Linked DNA regions of Homo sapiens. The protein of the gene in region 1 interacts with the protein of each later gene in a biochemical or structural test. Each region holds a gene or a part of one and is shown on either strand. Other genes may lie near its edges.

Region 1 (7,030 bases):
AGGATGTTCTTTACACAGTTTAAGAATGTCAAGCAAAGAACATTAGGGATGAAGCAATACAGGGAGAATAGATAGAGTGAAGGGAGCAGTGGGTTAAGTGGAGTCCTGGAGAAATATTTGAAAAGGGAGAAAGGAATGTGGCTCCTGAGGTAGGAGGGAAACCTGGAGCAGGTAGCCCCACAGAAGCCCAGGGAAGAGGCATTGTTTTTCTATTATTTTGGAAGCAGATCCCCTTTAGGAGACTCCTCATCAGATAATGATTATTCACTAAGAGGTTATATTCTTAATTAAAAGGGCCTTTACCTTTTCTTAGAATACTATGTTTGAATAACTTTTTATGTATTACGATATAAAAGTCTCTTTTAAGCATTTCTGTTTTATAGTCATTTGGCCAAAATCTAATTCAGATCCAGCTTAAATCCAAATGTCATTTGATGCTACATTTTATCCTGAGGTTGCTAGTTATTTAGTCAAATATAGTGAGTATAATCACTACAGGCTTAGAGTAAATTTCCATGTCAAGAGGTAGAACACATTTATTCTGTAATATTGAATCCTGTAATATTGAAAATCAAAAACAGCCCTTTTTTTTCTTCTGTAGAAAATAAGATTTTTAAGGAAGGCAGCAGGAAAATAGAACAAGTGAATATTTTACGTTCTTAGTGGTTTATGGTTGGCAGTTTTCCCCCAACATTTTGTTACGAAAAGTTAAAATGTACAGAAGAATTGAAAGACTTATACCCACCAGCTAGATTGTGCCATTAACATGTTGCTGTATTTACTTTATCACTGTCCATCTCTCTGACCATCTATTTGTCCCTCTTTCCATCCATCAGTCTGTCTTTTTTTTGGTAAGCATTTCAAGTAAGTTGACTGACAATTTTTCTAAGCAGCTGTATCTTTATTTTGTTACTGTTTTTTTCCTGGATGTTGTAATTACAGTGTCAAGACATTTAATAATGCACATGTTTCAGCTAACCCTTTTCCCAATTTCTAGAAATCTGAGATTGCCAATAATCCCTGTCAATCTTAAATTATTTTTTAATTCTGGTAAATAGTGTCAAACCTGATTAGTGCCCTCTTTCTCAATTGTTTTGTAATCCAGACAACTGTTAGTCATTAAAACATAATTTATAGTGGTTTTAAAGCATGATTTTCTAAAAAATTTTAAATAAATATTTATTCATATTATGTTGTTTTCAGAGTGGAGAGATCTACAGACCAAGTAATCAAGCCAGTCAATGTAGGAGCTCTATCAAAATGGGTTGGGAAGATACCGCCAGATGTTTTACAAGACATGGCAGTGATTGCTCCTATGCTTGCCAAGCTTGGATATGACCCATATGCCAACCCACCTAACTACGGAAAACCTGATCCCAAAATTATTGAAAACACTCGAAGGGTAAGTGAGATTTTTTAAAGCAACTGAGAAAACTAGATTTTGAATTTGGGATCTGAATACGTTTTTTTCTTATTTTATTTCTTGCTATTTAATGATCAGAAAAATATATTTTTTTTTTTTTTCATTTATTTTTATTTTATTTTATTTTATTTTTTTTATTATACTCTAAGTTTTAGGGTACATGTGCACATTGTGCAGGTTAGTTACATATGTATACATGTGCCATGCTGGTGCGCTGCACCCACTAATGTGTCATCTAGCATTAGGTATATCTCCCAATACTATCCCTCCCCCCTCCCCCAACCCCACCACAGTCCCCAGAGTGTGATATTCCCCTTCCTGTGTCCATGTGATCTCATTGTTCAATTCCCACCTATGAGTGAGAATATGCGGTGTTTGGTTTTTTGTTCTTGCAATAGTTTACTGAGAATGATGGTTTCCAGTTTCATCCATGTCCCTACAAAGGATATGAACTCATCATTTTTTATGGCTGCATAGTATTCCATGGTGTATATGTGCCACATTTTCTTAATCCAGTCTATCATTGTTGGACATTTGGGTTGGTTCCAAGTCTTTGCTATTGTGAATAGTGCCGCAATAAACATACGTGTGCATGTGTCTTTATAGCAGCATGATTTATACTCATTTGGGTATATACCCAGTAATGGGATGGCTGGGTCAAATGGTATTTCTAGTTCTAGATCCCTGAGGAATCGCCACACTGACTTCCACAATGGTTGAACTAGTTTACAGTCCCACCAACAGTGTAAAAGTGTTCCTATTTCTCCGCATCCTCTCCAGCACCTGTTGTTTCCTGACTTTTTAATGATTGCCATTCTACCTGGTGTGAGATGATATCTCATAGTGGTTTTGATTTGCATTTCTCTGATGGCCAGTGATGATGAGCATTTCTTCATGGTTTTTTGGCTGCATAAATGTCTTCTTTTGAGAAGTGTCTGTTCATGTCCTTCGCCCACTTTTTGATGGGGTTGTTTGTTTTTTTCTTGTAAATTTGTTTGAGTTCATTGTAGATTCTGGATATTAGCCCTTTGTCAGATGAGTAGGATGCGAAAATTTTCTCCCATGTTGTAGGTTGCCTGTTCACTCTGATGGTAGTTTCTTTTGCTGTGCAGAAGCTCTTTAGTTTAATTAGATCCCATTTGTCAATTTTGTCTTTTGTTGCCATTGCTTTTGGTGTTTTGGACATGAAGTCCTTGCCCACGCCTATGTCCTGAATGGTAATGCCTAGGTTTTCTTCTAGGGTTTTTATGGTTTTAGGTTTAACGTTTAAATCTTTAATCCATCTTGAATTGATTTTTGTATAAGGTGTAAGGAAGGGATCCAGTTTCAGCTTTCTACATATGGCTAGCCAGTTTTCCCAGCACCATTTATTAAATAGGGAATCCTTTCCCCATTGCTTGTTTTTCTCAGGTTTGTCAAAGATCAGATAGTTGTAGATATGCGGCATTATTTCTGAGGGCTCTGTTCTGTTCCATTGATCTATATCTCTGTTTTGGTACCAGTACCATGCTGTTTTGGTTACTGTAGCCTTGTAGTATAGTTTGAAGTCAGGTAGTGTGATGCCTCCAGCTTTGTTCTTTTGGCTTAGGATTGACTTGGCAATGCGGGCTCTTTTTTGGTTCCATATGAACTTTAAAGTAGTTTTTTCCAATTCTGTGAAGAAAGTCATTGGTAGCTTGATGGGGATGGCATTGAATCTGTAAATTACCTTGGGCAGTATGGCCATTTTCACGATATTGATTCTTCCTACCCATGAGCATGGAATGTTCTTCCATTTGTTTGTGTCCTCTTTTATTTCCTTGAGCAGTGGTTTGTAGTTCTCCTTGAAGAGGTCCTTCACATCCCTTGTAAGTTGGATTCCTAGGTATTTTATTCTCTTTGAAGCAATTGTGAATGGGAGTTCACCCATGATTTGGCTCTCTGTTTGTCTGTTGTTGGTGTATAAGAATGCTTGTGATTTTTGTACATTGATTTTGTATCCTGAGACTTTGCTGAAGTTGCTTATCAGCTTAAGGAGATTTTGGGCTGAGACGATGGGGTTTTCTAGATAAACAATCATGTCGTCTGCAAACAGGGACAATTTGACTTCCTCTTTTCCTAATTGAATACCCTTTATTTCCTTCTCCTGCCTGATTGCCCTGGCCAGAACTTCCAACACTATGTTGAATAGGAGCAGTGAGAGAGGGCATCCCTGTCTTGTGCCAGTTTTCAAAGGGAATGCTTCCAGTTTTTGCCCATTCAGTATGATATTGGCTGTGGGTTTGTCATAGATAGCTCTTATTATTTTGAGATACGTCCCATCAATACCTAATTTATTGAGAGTTTTTAGCATGAAGGGTTGTTGAATTTTGTCAAAGGCCTTTTCTGCATCTATTGAGATAATCATGTGGTTTTTGTCTTTGGCTCTGTTTATATGCTGGATTACATTTATTGATTTGTGTATATTGAACCAGCCTTGCATCCCAGGGATGAAGCCCACCTGATCATGGTGGATAAGCTTTTTGATGTGCTGCTGGATTCAGTTTGCCAGTATTTTATTGAGGATTTTTGCATCAATGTTCATCAAGGATATTGGTCTAAAATTCTCTTTTTTGGTTGTGTCTCTGCCTGGCTTTGGTATCAGAATGATGCTGGCCTCATAAAATGAGTTAGGGAGGATTCCCTCTTTTTCTATTGATTGGAATAGTTTCAGAAGGAATGGTACCAGTTCCTCCTTGTACCTCTGGTAGAATTCGGCTGTGAATCCATCTGGTCCTGGACTCTTTTTGGTTGGTAAACTATTGATTATTGCCACAATTTCAGAGCCTGTTATTGGTCTATTCAGAGATTCAACTTCTTCCTGGTTTAGTCTTGGGAGAGTGTATGTGTCGAGGAATGTATCCATTTCTTCTAGATTTTCTAGTTTATTTGCGTAGAGGTGTTTGTAGTATTCTCTGATGGTAGTTTGTATTTCTGTGGGATCGGTGGTGATATCCCCTTTATCATTTTTTATTGTGTCTATTTGATTCTTCTCTCTTTTTTTCTTTATTAGTCTTGCTAGCGGTCTATCAATTTTGTTGATCCTTTCAAAAAACCAGCTCCTGGATTCATTGATTTTTTGAAGGGTTTTTTGTGTCTCTATTTCCTTCAGTTCTGCTCTGATTTTAGTTATTTCTTGCCTTCTGCTAGCTTTTGAATGTGTTTGCTCTTGCTTTTCTAGTTCTTTTAATTGTGATGTTAGGGTGTCAATTTTGGATCTTTCCTGCTTTCTCTTGTAGGCATTTAGTGCTATAAATTTCCCTCTACACACTGCTTTGAATGCGTCCCAGAGATTCTGGTATGTGGTGTCTTTGTTCTCGTTGGTTTCAAAGAACATCTTTATTTCTGCCTTCATTTCGTTATGTACCCAGTAGTCATTCAGGAGCAGGTTGTTCAGTTTCCATGTAGTTGAGCGGCTTTGAGTGAGATTCTTAATCCTGAGTTCTAGTTTGATTGCACTGTGGTCTGAGAGACAGTTTGTTATAATTTCTGTTCTTTTACATTTGCTGAGGAGAGCTTTACTTCCAACTATGTGGTCAATTTTGGAATAGGTGTGGTGTGGTGCTGAAAAAAATGTATATTCTGTTGATTTGGGGTGGAGAGTTCTGTAGATGTCTATTAGGTCTGCTTGGTGCAGAGCTGAGTTCAATTCCTGGGTATCCTTGTTGACTTTCTGTCTCGTTGATCTGTCTAATATTGACAGTGGGGTGTTAAAGTCTTCCATTATTAATGTGTGGGAGTCTAAGTCTCTTTGTAGGTCACTGAGGACTTGCTTTATGAATCTGGGTGCTCCTGTATTGGGTGCATAAATATTTAGGATAGTTAGCTCCTCTTGTTGAATTGATCCCTTTACCATTATGTAATGGCCTTCTTTGTCTCTTTTGATCTTTGTTGGTTTAAAGTCTGTTTTATCAGAGACTAGGATTGCAACCCCTGCCTTTTTTTGTTTTCCATTTGCTTGGTAGATCTTCCTCCATCCTTTTATTTTGAGCCTATGTGTGTCTCTGCACGTGAGATGGGTTTCCTGAATACAGCACACTGATGGGTCTTGACTCTTTATCCACCTTGCCAGTCTGTGTCTTTTAATTGCAGAATTTAGTCCATTTATATTTAAAGTTAATATTGTTATGTGTGAATTTGATCCTGTCATTATGATGTTAGCTGGTGATTTTGCTCATTAGTTGATGCAGTTTCTTCCTAGTCTCGATGGTCTTTACATTTTGGCATGATTTTGCAGCGGCTGGTACCGGTTGTTCCTTTCCATGTTTAGCGCTTCCTTCAGGAGCTCTTTTAGGGCAGGCCTGGTGGTGACAAAATCTCTCAGCATTTGCTTGTCTATAAAGTATTTTATTTCTCCTTCACTTATGAAGCTTAGTTTGGCTGGATATGAAATTCTGGGTTGAAAATTCTTTTCTTTAAGAATGTTGAATATTGGCCCCCACTCTCTTCTGGCTTGTAGGGTTTCTGCCGAGAGATCCGCTGTTAGTCTGATGGGCTTTCCTTTGAGGGTAACCCGACCTTTCTCTCTGGCTGCCCTTAACATTTTTTCCTTCATTTCAACTTTGGTGAATCTGACAATTATGTGTCTTGGAGTTGCTCTTCTCGAGGAGTATCTTTGTGGCGTTCTCTGTATTTCCTGAATCTGAACGTTGGCCTGCCTTGCTAGATTGGGGAAGTTCTCCTGGATAATATCCTGCAGAGTGTTTTCCAACTTGGTTCCATTCTCCACATCACTTTCAGGTACACCAATCAGACGTAGATTTGGTCTTTTCACATAGTCCCATATTTCTTGGAGGCTTTGCTCATTTCTTTTTATTCTTTTTTCTCTAAACTTCCCTTCTCGCTTCATTTCATTCATTTCATCTTCCATTGCTGATACCCTTTCTTCCAGTTGATCGCATCGGCTCCTGAGGCTTCTGCATTCTTCACGTAGTTCTCGAGCCTTGGTTTTCAGCTCCATCAGCTCCTTTAAGCACTTCTCTGTATTGGTTATTCTAGTTATACATTCTTCTAAATTTTTTTCAAAGTTTTCAACTTCTTTGCCTTTGGTTTGAATGTCCTCCCGTAGCTCAGAGTAATTTGATCGTCTGAAGCCTTCTTCTCTCAGCTCGTCAAAATCATTCTCCATCCAGCTTTGTTCTGTTGCTGGTGAGGAACTGCGTTCCTTTGGAGGAGGAGAGGCGCTCTGCGTTTTAGAGTTTCCAGTTTTTCTGTTCTGTTTTTTCCCCATCTTTGTGGTTTTATCTACTTTTGGTCTTTGATGATGGTGATGTACAGATGGGTTTTCGGTGTAGATGTCCTTTCTGGTTGTTAGTTTTCCTTCTAACAGACAGGACCCTCAGCTGCAGGTCTGTTGGAATACACTGCCGTGTGAGGTGTCAGTGTGCCCCTGCTGGGGGGTGCCTCCCAGTTAGGCTGCTCGGGGGTCAGGGGTCAGGGACCCACTTGAGGAGGCAGTCTGCCCGTTCTCAGATCTCCAGCTGCGTGCTGGGAGAACCACTGCTCTCTTCAAAGCTGTCAGACAGGGACACTTAAGTCTGCAGAGGTTACTGCTGTCTTTTTGTTTGTCTGTGCCCTGCCCCCAGAGGT
Region 2 (7,030 bases), on another chromosome or scaffold:
GGTCTTGTTCTTTGCTCGGCCTGCTATTAATATTTTAATTATAATAAAATGCTTTAGGATTGAGTCACTTTTTAAGGCGGCCAATTTTCTTCATTCATAGCCAATAATCAACAAGTTGGACACTGACTGACTGTGACTGATTTTAAAAACCTTTTTGGGCTGGGCGTGGTGGCTCACATCTGTAATCCCAGCACTTTGGGAGGTCGAGGCAGGCGGATCACCTGAGGTCAGGAGTTCGACACCAGCCTGGCTAACGTGGTAAAACCCCGTTTCTACTAAAAATACAAAAAATTAGCCGGGCGTGGTGGTGCATGCCTGTAATCCCAGCTACTTGGGAGGCTGACACAGGAGAATTGAACGCGGGAGGCAGAGGTTGCGGTGAGCCAAGATCGTGCCACTACACTCTAGCTTAGGTAACAAGAGCGAAACTCTGTCTCAAAAAAAAAACAAAAAAAAACTTTTTGATTAGTGAATTTTTTTTACCAGCTTTAAAGAAGCTTTTACTTCTAATCTCCTATTGCTAATAAAGATGAACTATACTTGATGGAGGATCATCAGCAGCTTGAAAAAGCGTAGCATTAACATACTTTATAATTAAAAATACATATGAATTTCATACGTATAATTCCCATACGTATAGTGGATAACAGTAGATTGTTTGAAAAAAGATAACTGACAAGTACCAGGAGAATTTTAGCAGCACTGTTCATAATGAACTCTTGAATGTGCATTAACCCATAGAATGAATAGTGGTATATTCATGTAATGAAATATTAATCAGGATGAACTGGATTAAACTATATGCAACAACATGGACAAATCTCACAAACATTATATTGATCAAAAGAATACATTAAAATATTAACCCAATAAAATAGAGTTTAAAAACAGGCAAAACTAAAATATATTGTTTAGGGATATACATACATGTCAAAACTACAGGGAAGTGGGCAGCATGTGATTAGGGGCAGGCATAAGAGAAGCCTTCCAGGATGCTGATATTGTTCTATTGGTGATTACATGACTGTTGGCTTTCAAACTACTTGTTAAACTGTATATATGTGCTTTATACAATTTTCTGGATACACTGTATTTCACAATTTTAGAAAACTTAAACAATAAAGCATGTAACTGGATGTTCAGCTCTCATACTTCAGTTTTAAAACACTGGAGTTCATTAAAAGGAGATGGGATGCTTTCAGACATCTGTGGTTATTCCAGTTGCACATCACTGAAATTATTAGGAACATCCAGTTGATGTTCTTTTTTCCTAGAACCTGTCTCTTTACAGACTAACTCACTCTTATTCCAGTTAAGAGTTATTACCTCCTGGCGGGGCGCAGTGGCTCACACCTGTAATCCCAGCACTTTGGGAGGCCAAGGCAGTTGGATCACCTGAGGTCAGGAATTCAAGACCAGCCTGGCCAACATGGTGAAACCCCGTCTCTACAAAAATACAAAAATTAGCCGGGGATGGTGGCAGGTGCATGTAATACCAGCTACTTGGGAGGCTGAGGAAGCAGAATCGCTTGAATCCGGGAGGTGGAGGTTGCAGTGAGCCAAGATCACGCCACTGCTTTGCAGCCTGGGTGACAGAATGAGATTCTATCTCAAACAAACAAACAACAAAAAAAAGAGTTATCACCTCCTGTAAGTCTTTCCCAACATCTCTTCTTCCCTCTCCTACTGCTCCTTCCCACCACCCATCTGATTTACGTGCTTTTCCTCTGTGTTTCCTTCCTACTCAGAACACACTTATACACATATCACATTGTTCTGAAATGGTCTGCTGACTTTCTGGCTTCTACTCCCAGCATCTCCAACCATCCCTATGCCACTAAACCATAAATTGACCTCAAAAGCAGGGACAATTGTTTTTGTTCTCTCTTTCTATGACATATGAGTCATTCAATAAAATTTTTGGTGATTAAACAAATAAGTGAAAATGTATTGCCATATTTCCAATGGATAATACTTCTTGCCAATTTTTACCACAGTGACATGAGAAATATGATGAAAAGCTTTTCTTTCACAGTAAGTAGTAAGTATTCAATAAATGGCATTACTAGGAGAAAGCTTTCCAAGAAAGAGAGGATGGTTGAAAAACATTATCCACAAATTAAATAGATGAGAAATGAAAAGACCACTAGGAGTCAAAAGCAGTAATTGGCTTACTCCCCTTACAGGTAACTTAAGAAACGATTCTAATAAATGAAAAGTTTTATACATTAGCAAGTCAATTAAAACACTGTTCATGAGTTAATAATCTATATCAAAACTCTTACCAAAGGCAATAATAACAAATAAGCAGATTCCTGATTTCAACAGGAGATAAACCTATTTTATTTTGGTCAGGCTTGTGCTCAATGTTTACTTTCTCAGTTGAGGTCAGTGTTATTGAACTGAGATAGTATCTAATTTTAACTGTGCTTGAAAGGTTATACTCTTCAAATTATATTTAAATTTCTTGATTGTTTTCATAAGACAATGATACTTAATATTTAATTTAATTAGTTTATATTTTTTGAGGCAGTCTTACTCTGTCACCCAGGCTAGAGTGCAGTAGTGTGACCTTGGCTCATTGCAGCCTCTGCCTCTTGGGTTCAAGAGATTCTCCCATCAGCATAGCTAGGATTACAGGTGCATGCCACCACACCCAGCTAATTTTTTTTTTCCTTTAGTAGAGATGGGGTTTCACCATGTTGGCCAGGCTGGTCTCGAACTCCTGGCCTCAAGTGATTTGCCCGCCTCAAACCTCCCAAAGTGCTGGGATTATAGATGTGAGCCACTGCGTCTGGCCAGATGCTTAATATTTTAAAACCAGTCTGTGGTAGTTACCCCTCAGAAGAATTTTTTTTTTTCTTTTAAGACAGGGTCTCACTCTGTCACCCAGGTTGGAGTACAGTGGCACAAACACAGCTCACTCCAGCCTTGAACTCCTGGGCTCAAGCAATCCTCTCGCCTCAATCTCCCAAGTAGCTGAAACTGCAGGTATGTGACACCATGCCAGGCTAATTTTTATATTTTTTGTAGAGATGAGGTCTCACTATGTTGCCCAGGTTGGTCTAGAATTCCTGGCCTCAGGCAATCCTTCTGTCTCCCAAAGTGCTGGGATTACAGACAGGAGCCACCGTGCCTGCTTGAAAGACACATAGTTTCTAAAAAAATGATAATACTGGGTTCTAAACAGAGGATCTTAGGGAACTCTCCAGTAAAAGTTTGGGAGTTTGGGACACAAAATTTAACATTTAGGATTTTTTCCTTTTTTGACTTGTCACAAATCCCAAACCATGTAAAAACAAGCAATTATATACACATTAAAACATACTCACAAAGAACATAAAAATGTTATTAAGCCCTTAATTTGGACACAAAAATGAAATGGGCTTTGCTGTTTTCATTAGGCTGATTCTCTTTTCCCTAAAGGAAAGAGTCTAAAAGTCTCTGCCTGGTAACAAAATCTATAATCTGGTCCAAATCGAATTTACTGATTTTGAATCCCATTGTTCTCCACCTACTTCAGTCATACTGGCCTACTCACAGTTATCTCCCAAACTCATCAAGCTCATGATACCTTTGCTCACTCAGGTTCCCTCATCCAGAACGTGTTTCCTTTTCTCCATTCATGTTAATCCTCCCATTTTTAAAGGCATGGCTTGTTTTACTGCCTTTTTCTATTCTTCCCCGGATTACTCTATCTCATGATGGTTTCTCCTCTCTCTAACTCCCTTGGCTCATTCTAACATGCAAAAACTTGCTTTTTATTGTTGTTTACTTTAAAAAAAATATTTTGCATTGTGAAATATAATGTACACACAGAAGAATAAACAAAACAAAGTAAAAAGCTTAATTATTCCAAAGTGAAGATCTATGGCCCAGGTGCAGTGGCTCACGCTTGTAATCCCAGCACTTTGGGAGGCCAAGGCAGGTGGATCACTTGAGATCAGGAGTTCAAGACTAGCCTGGCTAACATGCTGAAAACCCTTCCCTACTAAGAATACAAAAATTAGCCAGGAGGGACAGAGCAAGACTCCGTATCAAAAATAAATAAATAAATAAAAAAGGCCGGGAGCAGTAGTTTACGCCTGTAATCCCAGCACTTTGGGAGGCCACACCTATAATCCCAGCACTTTGGGAGGCCAAGTTGGGTGGGTCGCCTGAGAGGTCAGGAGTTCAAGACCAGCCTGACCAATATGGTGAAACCCCATCTCTACTAAAAATACAAAAATTAGCCAGGCATGGTGGCGGGTGCCTGTAATCCCAGCTACTCAGGAGATTGAGACAGGAGAATTGCTTGAACTCGGGAGGCGCAGGTTGCAGTGAGCCAAGATGGTGCCACTATACTCCAACCTGGGTGACAGAGCAAGACTCTGTCTTAAAAACAAAAACAAAAACAAAAACAAAACTATGAAACTTCCTCTAGGTCCAGAAACAGAAAATTGTTACTATCTAGAAATCCTCTCCATTTTCCTTCCTAATTACTAACACCCTTTTCCTTCCCCTATCCCTTACAAAAAGATAATCACTATTCTAAAAACTATAGTAATTCCTGGCTTGATTTTGTTTATAATTGTACCACCTAAATATGCAACCTCAAATACAATAGTTTTTTGAGTTTCATATAAATGGAATCATACAGTATGTATATTTTTGTGTTTGGCTTTTTTTATTGAACATAATGTGAGAAATATACATGTTGTATAACAATGTTCATTTTCATTCTGTATAGAAAACATATTTATACTCATTTAAACAAATGGATGACTCTTTTTTTTTTTTGATGATTCATTTTTATCCATTCTGCTGTTGATGGACCTTCGGGTTACTTAACTTTTAAAAAGTATGTATCTTTTTGTCTCTCCAGCTAGAATGCAAGTTTCTTGAAGGCAGGGACCATATACTATACTATTTTATATTTACCTTAGTATTAATATTTAGCATAATCCTAAGCACATAATGGGTGTCCTCAATCACATTAAATATTGATTAAATGAATCTATTGATAGTTTGAGAGATAAGAAAAAAATAAGTACAGTTGGGAATCAATTTAATATTTTTAGAGATAGTTATGTAACTGGCCTTTTGTAACTACTACTATTTAAATAAATCACAAAGTTTGACCTCTTCTATTCATTTACACCTAAGGATTTATTGTCTTTTATTCTTCCTGAGCCAAATGAAAGCTAAATATTTGTTAACTATCCTCAAAAATAAAATTAGAGCAATTCAAAAGGTGGTTAATTGTTATGTGCTATTATTTATTATTTTTTGAGGCCTTGCTCTGTTGTTCAGGCTGGAGTGCAGTGACACAATCCTGGTTCACTGAAGCCTCGACCTCCGAGGCTTAAGCCATCCTCTTGACTCAGCCTCCTGAGTAGCTAGGACTACAGGCATGTGCCACCATGTCCAGCTAATTTTTTTGTTTTAAATTTTTTGTAGAGATGGTGTCTCACCATGTTGCCCAGGCTGGTCTTGAACTCCTGGGCCCAAGCAATCCTCTTACCTTGGCCTCCCAAGTGTTAGGATTACAGGAATTAGCCATTGCATCCAGCCATCTGCTTATTTTGTACAGTATCTCACCAATATGTTAAGTACTCACCATGGCCATAGCTCTTAATGAGCTGCTTTATTTTTTATTCTATTTCCTAAAATTTATATTAACCATTATAAACACATGAAGACAAGCCCAAAAGCAAAAATTCCAGTGCATAAGGTCAGCAGGAAATTAATCATTCCTATTCAAAGCTAAAACAAACCAAATAGCTTTTAGTTCTATATCCTCTTTTTATACAGTCAGTGACTGTTTCCTAGGTAATGTGTAAACGTCTCAAAAGAGTATTTATATCACCTAATCTTCAGTCCTATTCTGACATTCTCTTGGAGAGCTGGTTTTGCCTTTTCGTTTATTTGCCTTTTATAAAACTGAAGGCTCATCAACTTCTCAGCAAACAGGAAAATATATTTCCGGGCAAGAATTTCTGATATACCTACATCTTGGCCAGGTACACATAAGCATGTCTCTAATATTAGTTTTAACAATACACAGACTATAACTGGTCTGTAAATTTTGTTCAAGTTGGTAATTTAACAAGAAAAAAAGTAAAAAGGAAAATAGTAAATAAATGAAAGGCAAAATCTAAACAACAATGGTATTTCCAAGTCGAAGAATTATGTAGAAAAGAAGAGCTGTTACTACTTGTATGCAGCCAATTCACTTCTAGCTAAGGATAATTATCAAAGCCAAATTTAGTACTTTTAAAATCTAAAATAACATTCTAATTTTGTATGTTTTCAAAACTGAGGCCAGTAATAAATATACCTCTTTCTTTTCTTGCAGGCGGTGGGCGAGGGGGGGCGGTTATTTAAGGCTTTCCTGGAAAGAAAGCAGATTGTTTAAAATGTTACCTTCGTAACTTCTTCATGAGGGAATAGTGTGATGAGAAAACACAGCAAAAAGTTACAAATGAAGGATGATGATGTATACTAGTAGAGAAGCCAGGGAAATTTCTGGTTATATCACAAGACTCAGGACCTTAAGACTAACTGTACTATAAAATAAATGTTCCATTAAATAAGGAGACATTTAGGGAAAAAAGAGAAAAGCTAAAATTATTTTTAAAAATTTTCAAAAATTAAAATAATCCTCAATTGTTTATGTATGTGTGTGTGTGTGTGTGTGTGTATATATATATATATATATATATATATATTTTTTTTTTTTTTTTTTTTTTTTTTTTTTGAGGCAGGGTCTCACTCTGTCATCCAGGCTGGAGTGCAGTGGTGCAATCTTGGCTCATTGCAACCTCCGCCTCCCAGGTTCAAGTGATTCTCCTGCCTCAGCCTCCCGAGTACCTGGGATTACAGGCACCCGCCGCCACACATGGCTAATTTTTTATTTTTAGTAGAGACGGGGTTTCACCATGTTGGCCAGGCTAGTCTTGAACTCCTGGCCTCAAGTGATTCACTCACCTCGGCTCCCCAAAGTGCTGGGATTACAGGCGTGAGCCACCGCGTAATCCAACTGTTGATA

The links. The genes of interacting proteins can lie anywhere in the genome.
Region 2: the proteins of TPST1 (region 1) and GOLPH3L form a complex in vitro, tested with the Homo sapiens proteins (one study listed by BioGRID).

Annotation. Positions count from the first base shown.
Region 1 is NC_000007.14:66,285,308-66,292,337, forward strand, and holds part of TPST1 (protein-tyrosine sulfotransferase 1), read left to right. Parts: intron 1-1,203; coding exon 1,204-1,402; intron 1,403-7,030. UniProt on the Homo sapiens protein: Catalyzes the O-sulfation of tyrosine residues within acidic motifs of polypeptides, using 3'-phosphoadenylyl sulfate (PAPS) as cosubstrate.
Region 2 is NC_000001.11:150,687,139-150,694,168, forward strand, and holds part of GOLPH3L (Golgi phosphoprotein 3-like), read right to left. Parts: intron 1-7,030. UniProt on the Homo sapiens protein: Phosphatidylinositol-4-phosphate-binding protein that may antagonize the action of GOLPH3 which is required for the process of vesicle budding at the Golgi and anterograde transport to the plasma membrane.